Regions from separate parts of the Homo sapiens genome. Here region 2 is linked to region 1. The links come from fine-mapping of genetic effects on gene expression. Tissue or cell type: nasal epithelium. Region 1 holds a variant in brackets; the other region holds the start of a gene. All regions are shown on one strand. Distances are from middle to middle. Region 1 overlaps LOC102724680 (a long non-coding RNA gene). Region 2 holds the start of SLC6A15 (solute carrier family 6 member 15).

Evidence for each region. PIP is the estimated chance that this variant, and not a neighbour inherited with it, causes the effect. A credible set is the group of variants that fine-mapping cannot tell apart.
Region 2: it holds the start of SLC6A15, and the variant in region 1 is the best candidate, but not a certain one, in a credible set for the expression of SLC6A15 in nasal epithelium (TOPMed, PIP 0.62).

Annotation. Positions count from the first base shown.
Region 1 is chr12:84,951,123-84,955,478 of GRCh38, reverse strand. The region is part of intron 2 of LOC102724680 (a long non-coding RNA gene); the gene reads right to left. Among named protein-coding and RNA genes, the nearest start is that of SLC6A15, 41 kb to the right of the region's middle. The variant A/C (reference allele first, on the strand shown) is at 2,214.
Region 2 is chr12:84,910,565-84,914,966 of GRCh38, reverse strand. SLC6A15 (solute carrier family 6 member 15) reads left to right here and starts at 2,168. Exons shown (of 12, transcript NM_182767.6): 1 at 2,168-2,444. It overlaps LOC102724680 (a long non-coding RNA gene), which reads right to left and starts at 2,130. Exons shown (of 4, transcript XR_945154.3): 1 at 2,063-2,130; 2 at 105-210. RefSeq lists enhancers at 1,407-1,953, 1,954-2,501, 3,050-3,598.

The DNA of each region.
Region 1 (4,356 bases):
AATAAACTAGTTCAAATGACTCATGTGCAAAGTTACGTTACAGTGGAAAAAAATGTAGAGATTGAAATGTAAAACATATACCCAAGGATCACGGTGCATTTAAATTCTGATTAAGATATTTTAAACCTTTCTGTAACACTAAACATATAAAATCACGGTATGCAAAACCTGGAAATAAAATTTTGAAATACATTTAATGTGTTATCATATGCATCCCTTGTTAAGGCTATGCTACTTCTGAGTTTCTTGCTCTCCGAATTTGAATAGCTTGGAATGATTAATTTGTGAACTAATGAAAAGTGAGAAATATGACCAGGGAGAAAAGGAAGATGATGAAGGAAAGTCTTTTATGAACTTCTGATGATTACTTCATTCATGCTTTAATTAGATGCAATTTCTGGACAATCTTTGTATATAACCTAATTATCTAAGAGAATTAGATGACCATTAGTTTTACAATCTTAATATGTGTACTTATGTCTTATGATTAAATTATTATTGATTCTTGAACATTTTAATGAATAAGCATTAAATTGAATTTTTTCAAATTGCTCGAATTATGAGTTAATATAGCCTATCATTGCCAAATATAATTAGAAGAAATTGAGTTTTAAAAATTAACAAAATAATCTTAAAAATCAGTCATACAGGACTGATTGTAATTATATTTGTTGTTCACATTATCTTCTTATCTCTGGTGCCATAATCTAAGATTAACATAAAAGGGTAAAGAGAAAAAAGAATGAGAGGAAGAGAAGAGTAATATAAGTATAAAAGGTTCACAATGCTTGTCCACAAATCTGAAATCCAAAAACTGAAAGTGGCTTATGACTAATTTAGACAAGACGTGAAGTGAACTGAAGTGAGACTATTTATAGTCTTTATGATACATAGTGTGAATGTGTGTGTATACATGTGTACACAAATACCTGTATATACCTGTGTATCAGTATATCTATTTCCATCTCTCTAGCCAACCATTCATCCACACACTTTTTTTTGTTCCAGAGATTTTTTTTCTTGATAATGTAGTGCTGTCCTAGGCTCTGCTAAGCTTATTTCACAGTATGTAACATGTATACGGCCTTCCTAAAATAATACAAATGCTTATGAAATACTTGCGATCCCAAGCATTTTAGATAAAAATGGTGGGCCTGAACATACTGTTTTCTGGGTAAACATGTACTAACTCTTACGGCAATCATGCTCTTGGCAGCAGTTACTGCTTCATGTAACTAGAAATCCAGAAGTAGACCAGGCTGCAGAGGTGCCCTAAGTATCTCCAACATGCTTCTCTGCAATTCACCACCTTCCTTTCACCAGTTTCATTTTCATTTGATACAAACGAAAGGATACAACATTTTGTAAGGTTCAAAGCCATATTACAACATCTAGAAGAGGTGTCTGAAATTTTTTTGTAGAAGTCCCAGTGAAAATGTATTCTAGGAATCCCAATGAACTTTCATTCATGTGTCAGTGGACAGAATTATATCATATGCTGTGGTAATTCCATAAGCGAATGGGTTAGAGACATGATAAAAATAAACACTGACAAATTCTATAGAAGTTATATTTTGCTGTGATAAATGTAGACAATATATTTTCAGCGGAGGGTACTGAGAAAGCACTGAGACAACTGGGATGTCTAAAACTGACATTTTCCAGTTTTCCTGGTCATGTTGGCAATAGTATTCTGTGTGTTCTTCCAGATTGTGACAAGTCCTAAGAGTGGGCTTAGCAAGGGAGCTACCTTAGCATATCACCCTGAAGCTCTAATACACTTAATTTAAAGTGTTACCATAATTGATTCTAATAACCCATGTCACCTGGATCTAAAATGTGAAATTTAGATGTATTTTCTTAAAATGCAATGGGGACTATCTTTATATGTCTTGGACACATTACAAACTAGTCACTAGATATCACTCATGAAGAGTGCCTCATAGGTTTCATCTGTCTGTGGGTATGCATTCTCTGATGTTGCCAGGAGACACCAGATGCCACTGCCTGACCAGGATCTACAATTCTACATTCCCACGCTTGAATCAAACCTGGTTTCTAAAATATTCGTCGGATAGATAAACGCAATATTGTAATTAGTTTCCACCAATAATTCTCAGTAATGGCTGCACTTTAGAATGACCCTAGAAATAAAAAATACTGGTCAGAGGCTATGAAGTGAGGCCCTAACACCATTAGATTTAAAAAAAAAA[A/C]CAAAAACCTCTCCTGCTCATTCTAATGTGCCGTCAGTGTTGAGAACGAGAAGCTTAGATTACTCGCAGCACCTAACTGAGCTGAGATGAATTCTACAAACCAATGGGCTAATGTATTGGAAAGTCATAGATAATGGAGATAACCAAAATGTCCAATATAGTAACATTGCTTTAAACAATTCTTTATTTAACAGTATAAGTTTACCCAAATCAATGTTTGAACAAAAATCAACGTAAAATATTTTGTCTCATTTCTTTCTCGTTAATAATTTCTATTAACTTTTGTTTAATTCTATTATTCTTATTAAAAAAACATTTTATGTTCTCTGGGTAGTCTTATACACAGGCATTTATTAGCAGAGTATTAATTTGCTGTAAGACAGCTTATTAGTGGATAAAATAAACCTTTATGAGATTCTATAGAAAAGCCACTCATTTTCCTTTTCTTAAAAAAGTTTTTTCTCATAAATAAAATTTTGGAAAAAAACGATGTTTATACTTTTAGAACTACCTATAATGTCTAATTATGTGCACCTCACAGAATAATTGAATAAATTTTATTTTATTGTAATCAAACATATTTTTTATTTTACATCTTCATAGAAAATTCCCCAGTTGAAATCTCACAAAAAGTGCTTTACAGTTGTGTCTAAACAAAGGATAAAGCAGACATCTGTTAAAATAATATTGTGCAAATTCTATGTTAAGTGAAACGGATAATTGCAAAGTTTTCCTTTTACTGTCTTCAGTTAATTTAGGTAATTTATGTAATTAGAGTAATTTATGTAGACATTTTTTTCAATTGTAATAGAGACAAAAATTATGAAATGCATATCTCAAGAGCACAGTTAAAATAGAAAGAAAAACTCTGGGCCATATCCCAACATCAAATTGAGAAAACAACAAGCTAAACATATTGTACAGAAATAGCATTGAATATCTCAAATCTTAATGCCAGTCTCCATTTAGTCTTTAGGAGTTATGAAATTAACAATTTTTTTTTTATCTGTCAGCTGTGCTTTCTGGCTACAAAAAGAAAGCAATTTCATAGTTGCCAATATAAAAAAATAGAAGATTCTACAGTCTTGAAGAAGTCTAAATAATATAATTATTTTCTTAGAATCATTAAATTAATTGACATTTAATTTTTATTACATTAAGGTGAAATTGTCCTCTTATGAGAGTATTTCCACTGTGTGTGTGTAATTTTTAATTTATCTATACATTATCCCTCTATTCCTTCTTCATCAAATTATTCATCTGTTAGAAACAAAGTGTTTTTCCATTTGGCTTTATATGCACAAATTTAATTGGATAATTATTTAAGCCATGTGAAAAGTCATCAGCCACACAGTTCTCTAAAAAGTGCTAAAACCATTCTTTTAAAGATGCATATCACACACCATAACAATAGAGTCAGAAAGACAATGTTTAATTGTATTTTATAGTTTCAAATAAATTTATATATTTCATGTAAAAATCAAATTATTTTCTACTTCATACCCAATTTTTCATATTCTAAATACACTCAGGGCAATATATAATTTTTGATCACTTGGCATATATCAAAGATTTAAATCCAACTTCCACAAAACATACTTCTTATACATTTCTACTTATAGAAATGCTGTATTATCTGAATTCCAAGAGGAATACGAAAAAAAGTTGCTTTGCATGGATCACTTAAAATTCCATCAAAAATCAAAAATATATAGATATTGCATTCTGACTCCATGATCTAGAAGACAGGAACTCTTTATTTTCATTTTTAACGTTAGCATCCATTATGGTTTTTAGTTACTGCCCCCAAAATGCTTAAGGTAGGAAGAAAAGAAAGGAGAAAGGGAGAGGATGGACAAAGGAAAGGAAGAAGAGAGAGTGAGAGAGAAGAAGGGAAGAAAGGGTAGAAGAGAGGAAGGGAGGAAGGAAAGAAGGAAGAAAGGGAGGGAAGGAGGAGACAAGGAAGACAGGAAGGGAGGGAGAAAAAAAGGAAGTGAGGAAAGGAGGGAGGAAAGAAGGAAGGCAAACAGGCAGATACTTCACATGTGCTCATACTGCCCAGGCCTGCAACAGCATTCACACTCATGTACTTGCCGGAATTCCCTGCATTGCTCAAGATCAGTTTTAAATCTGACTAATTTTA
Region 2 (4,402 bases), 41 kb after region 1:
CAGAGAAAGAACTCTGTAATCATTACCCTAAAATATATTAGCAATTGAATTTTAAATCTTTGAAGACTCATTGTTGTTAAATTTTAAAAATGAATACATTTTACCTTTGGCTAGGGTTCCCAGACTCTCCTTTTGAGGTCTCTCCATTCTTCATCTATTTATTGTTTTCAAAGTTGCCTACCACTTGTGTTGAGATTCCACCCTTTCCTCCTGTTAAAATAGATAATTTGTTAAAGGGTTACAGGATAGTATAAAAGCACATGAAGTTTGAGGCCAGCATATCTGAATTTATTTCTCCATTCTGTCATTGAACAAGTTTTCTGACTTTTTGCAATTTTTTTTGAGTATCACCTCTCTCTAATCTCTAAATTAGGAAAAATCACCTCATTAATTAGTTGAGAGGATTAAATAAGATATTATTAAGCCCCAGGTACTTAGTGGGAAGCTTAAAACAATAGTTGCTTTCTCCTACTTCTCTTCATTGGCATTGAGACATAAATTAGTATCAGTCATTATGGAGGGCATCGCTCTACAAATATTTTGTGACCTATGCATATGTATTGGAATTAGGTATCAGACACTAGTGAAAAAGCGTGGGAGAGAAATAATTTTCGTACTTCTTGGTACTACCGTAAACGATTTCTGCCAGCATATGGATAACTTTGTTTCCCACAGATAATCCTAATCCTGATCATGGTGGACACAGCTCTCCTTATTTTCCTAAAATTTTCTCAGTTGTTATTGATAATGTTGGTACTGTATTTCAGTTTCTTTATATATCAACATTAAATATTTGCCTGTCACCAAAATGTGAAGTAAAAAGCAAAAAAAGTCCTATAAAAGGTTTATTTTGACTGTTTTTATTTTTTCACGTGGCGCATCTATCAAAGAGCATTTATTTACTCATGGCAGGGGAGGCGTATCAGGGAATCAAATCTAATTTAATTTCTTAACTTTTAATTTTTCAAAGTTGGGATTGGAAGAGAGGCTGAGAAAAAACTCTCTTGGCTGTTTTAAAAGCTAAGGATTAGTAGCAATGTTCTGACCTGAAATTTAGGTCTTGTGATTTCTTTCCAAGAGATTTTTCACTGCATGAAAAACCTGTTTGCAATGGCCTTTTTAATTTAATTCAATCTTAATTGGATACGAACCGTAAAAATCTAAGGGATTGTTAAAAGGCCTAAAAGTGCACAAAAGTAGTTTTTAAGAGTAATATTAATAATCTGGAAGTGAAAAATTAACTTTGCTAAATTACTGAACCTTTCTACCTAGCTTCTAGGTTCATTTTGTATTTCTTTCAAATTTTGAACGTTTCAAGGACGGAAAATTTCATCCTTAGAGCATACGCACTGTTTAGGGGACGGTTCAGCCATTTTCAAAAGGAGGCTAAGCTTTGTGTTCAGAGGTGTATATTTTAGGAATTCTCCACGTGGCTTAATTACGAGCATGCCTTGATTGTTAGCAGAGGTAAGTCAGGCTTCATCTTGTAATGAGACCCCTTGGAAAAAAGTCTGCTGCTGAGGCACCAACACAGGGTGGGTGAGGGCCAGCTTTCTAAAACGGCCTTTCATAACCTGGCGAGAATCACTGAGCGCTATGAGGCCACCGCCTGACGGAGAAGCCAATGCCCAGAGGCTTTTTCTTTCGCAAGAGATGTAAATGGCCGGCTTGGGGGAATAGGTAGGGAAAAGGGTTCTTTGGGTCACCCATTTTTTCTAGTCCCATTACTGACTCTTGGAGAATATTCAGATGGTGCCAGGTAGCACCATGCCTATTATTATTCTCACTGAGACAAAAGTCAGCGGCTGGTAACTGGTGTCCATTCTTTCGCTTGAGTGGGTTGGAGAAAGACGGCATGGCTGGAGGAATTTGTTTTGTTTTGCTTTGGAGCGGGCTTCCTCAGTTGCATCCTGCATCGGGCGGGCACAGCCCCGGGCTCTGGGAAGACGCCGCTCGGCAGCCGCAGTGGCCGCTGCATCAATGGGTTTTGGGGCAGGGAGGTGCGGAGCCCAGCCTGCGCTCCTGGCTACCCCTCCGCGCCCCGCCGCCGCCCACAGCCTACCCTTCTCCTCTGCAGCCGGTAGGCGGCCGTAACACGGGCGGGCCGAGCACGTGGGCGCCTCCGTCACACCCTCACACATACACACACGCGCGCGCGCACACACACATACGCATGTACACGCGCACCCGCACCCGCGCGCCTGTATCCCGTGCTGTTTCCCTGGCAGACACACAGGCGCTCACGAGTCTCTCCTTGCCAGCCTGCAGGGCGGCGACCCCCAAAACCCAGCTCCGGGTCCCAACCTAGGCAAGAAGCTGCTTCTCTGCCAACAGCTCCTCTTCGGCCTCCGTCACAGCCACCTGGACCCTACCCTTTCGCGACTGCTGCTGCTGCTGCCCGGACGTGGAAGCAGCAAGAGGCGCTTGGTCAAGACACACTGACGGTAATGGCAAGCGCCTACGCTAAGGGCACAACTGGGGGTGAGGTGGGGCTCGCCATTAGCCACCCAGGAGCCTGGGCACCAGCACCGGGAACGAATTGATGGATGGATGCCGGGAAGGACTCGCTGCGTCCTGGGGTGGGAGGAGGGAGGGCAGCTCAAAAGCCCTGGGAGGGAGAAGCTGGGCTGGGCGGGCAACCGTCTAACTCTGCATCTCTGTACAATCAGGGTGGGGGGCGACAGGCTGCACATGTAAGGGGAAGCACATGGGTTGAAACGTGCCGCCATCCTTTCTTCCCGTCGTGGAAATTGCCCACAGCATCCCCAGAGACCTACTCGTTTCCAAGCCAAGTCGGGGTTGGTTGAAGGGTGGGGTCCAACACGGGAAAGTCCAAGAGGAAAGTTGGGAGGGTTGGGGCAGAGAGAGACGCGAGGTGAATTGGAAGCTAAACCTCGTGCAGGTGGGCGATGGGGCGGGGAGAGCAGAGAGCTTTATTCCTCATTCGCTTCCGTTCGCTTTAGCAAAGGCAGAAGGCGACTACCGAGGACAGAGTGTTTTCACGTGACCACAGTTCCCCTTTGCTTGAGGTATCCTGTGATAAATGGCCCGAAAGGGGGCCTTTCGCCGTACGAAAGGCACGTGGCTGCTGGAGAAATCACGGCTCCTGTGTTTCTGCGCATCCTGGAATTTGAGAGTGTGGCGGTGAGGGTGGTGCTGCTGGGACTGTAAGAAGATGGGAAGCAGTTAGAAACCCAGATCGTTTCTACCTTTCTTTCACTAGGCTGGTCTGTGTGTGACTGGGAAGAAGACGGTATTGAGTACAGGGAAATCCTTGCACTCTAACGTAGCGCACCAACTGGATACATAAGAATGAATCAAGACGCCCGAGGCGTTCGGGAACAGGCATGACCCACCCAGTGGCACAGGCTGCGGGAACGGGAATTATTTTTCCTGAGCTGAGAAGCAGCCTTTGATGTGCGTTTTAGGAAGCAAAGCCCCCAGGCTCGCGCTCTCCAGCGTCCCGCTTTCCCTTTCCATCCTCCTCCCTAGCTGGGAAAGGCTGGAGTAAGACGGGGCGGGGTCCGGACTCCGGCGCAGTGACGTAAGCAGTGTTTGGGTGCTTATGCAAATAAGTCTGCGACGGTTTCTTCTGGTCTTGCCGTTTTCCCCTCCAGATCTTATAGGTAGACCCAATCTTAGTCTGCACCATCCTTGCGGTTCACTACTTAAGACGTATGGGAGAAATGAAGGATTTGCTTTATATGCTGCTTTGGGGCTCCTCATCGCCCATGCTGTAAAAGCTATTTTCTACCTGTCAATGCCTGATTGCTTTTCTGCTGTGCCAGCAACAAAGTGTTTGTTTTGAGGAATTATTATGTGCAGACACAGCCCCAACAAGCCCCTCACCCACCCAACCTCATTTCTGCAAGATCATTGCTGAAACACAGACCTATTTATGTCTTAGGCGCCCAGTACTGGGCTTGACTTGTACGTTCTTAATAAATACTTAATGATGGACTAAATCTTCTTTGAACAGTGTTAGGTTTTGAAGGGAAGGCGAGGGTTAAAGACACACACACACACACACACACACACGGAAAGAGGGCGGCTCAACAGCAAATTCAGGCTTTCTGTCCAGCATAAATCCTACAGAAGTGGAGGACCAGCCTAATGCCGGAGCCCGCTGCCGCTTACAGGCTGGGGCCATTTATAGGTACGGGCAGAAGGGGTCTGAGCAGTATGGCTTGCTGCTCCGCGGGATATTAATAAGATGCTTCCATGAAGAGGCGGTTCTGGCTCTTGTTCCGGCGCGATGTCGTTCTGTTGTTCAGGGTGTTCCTTGGACCTTTGTCCAGCAAGATATGATAGGGATGTCTCTTTAGTTAGGCCTTTGTCCAACTCGTGGTCAGTTGGTTAGACGGGATGTTTCTCACAGCTCGAACCCCTGTGAAATGTTTCG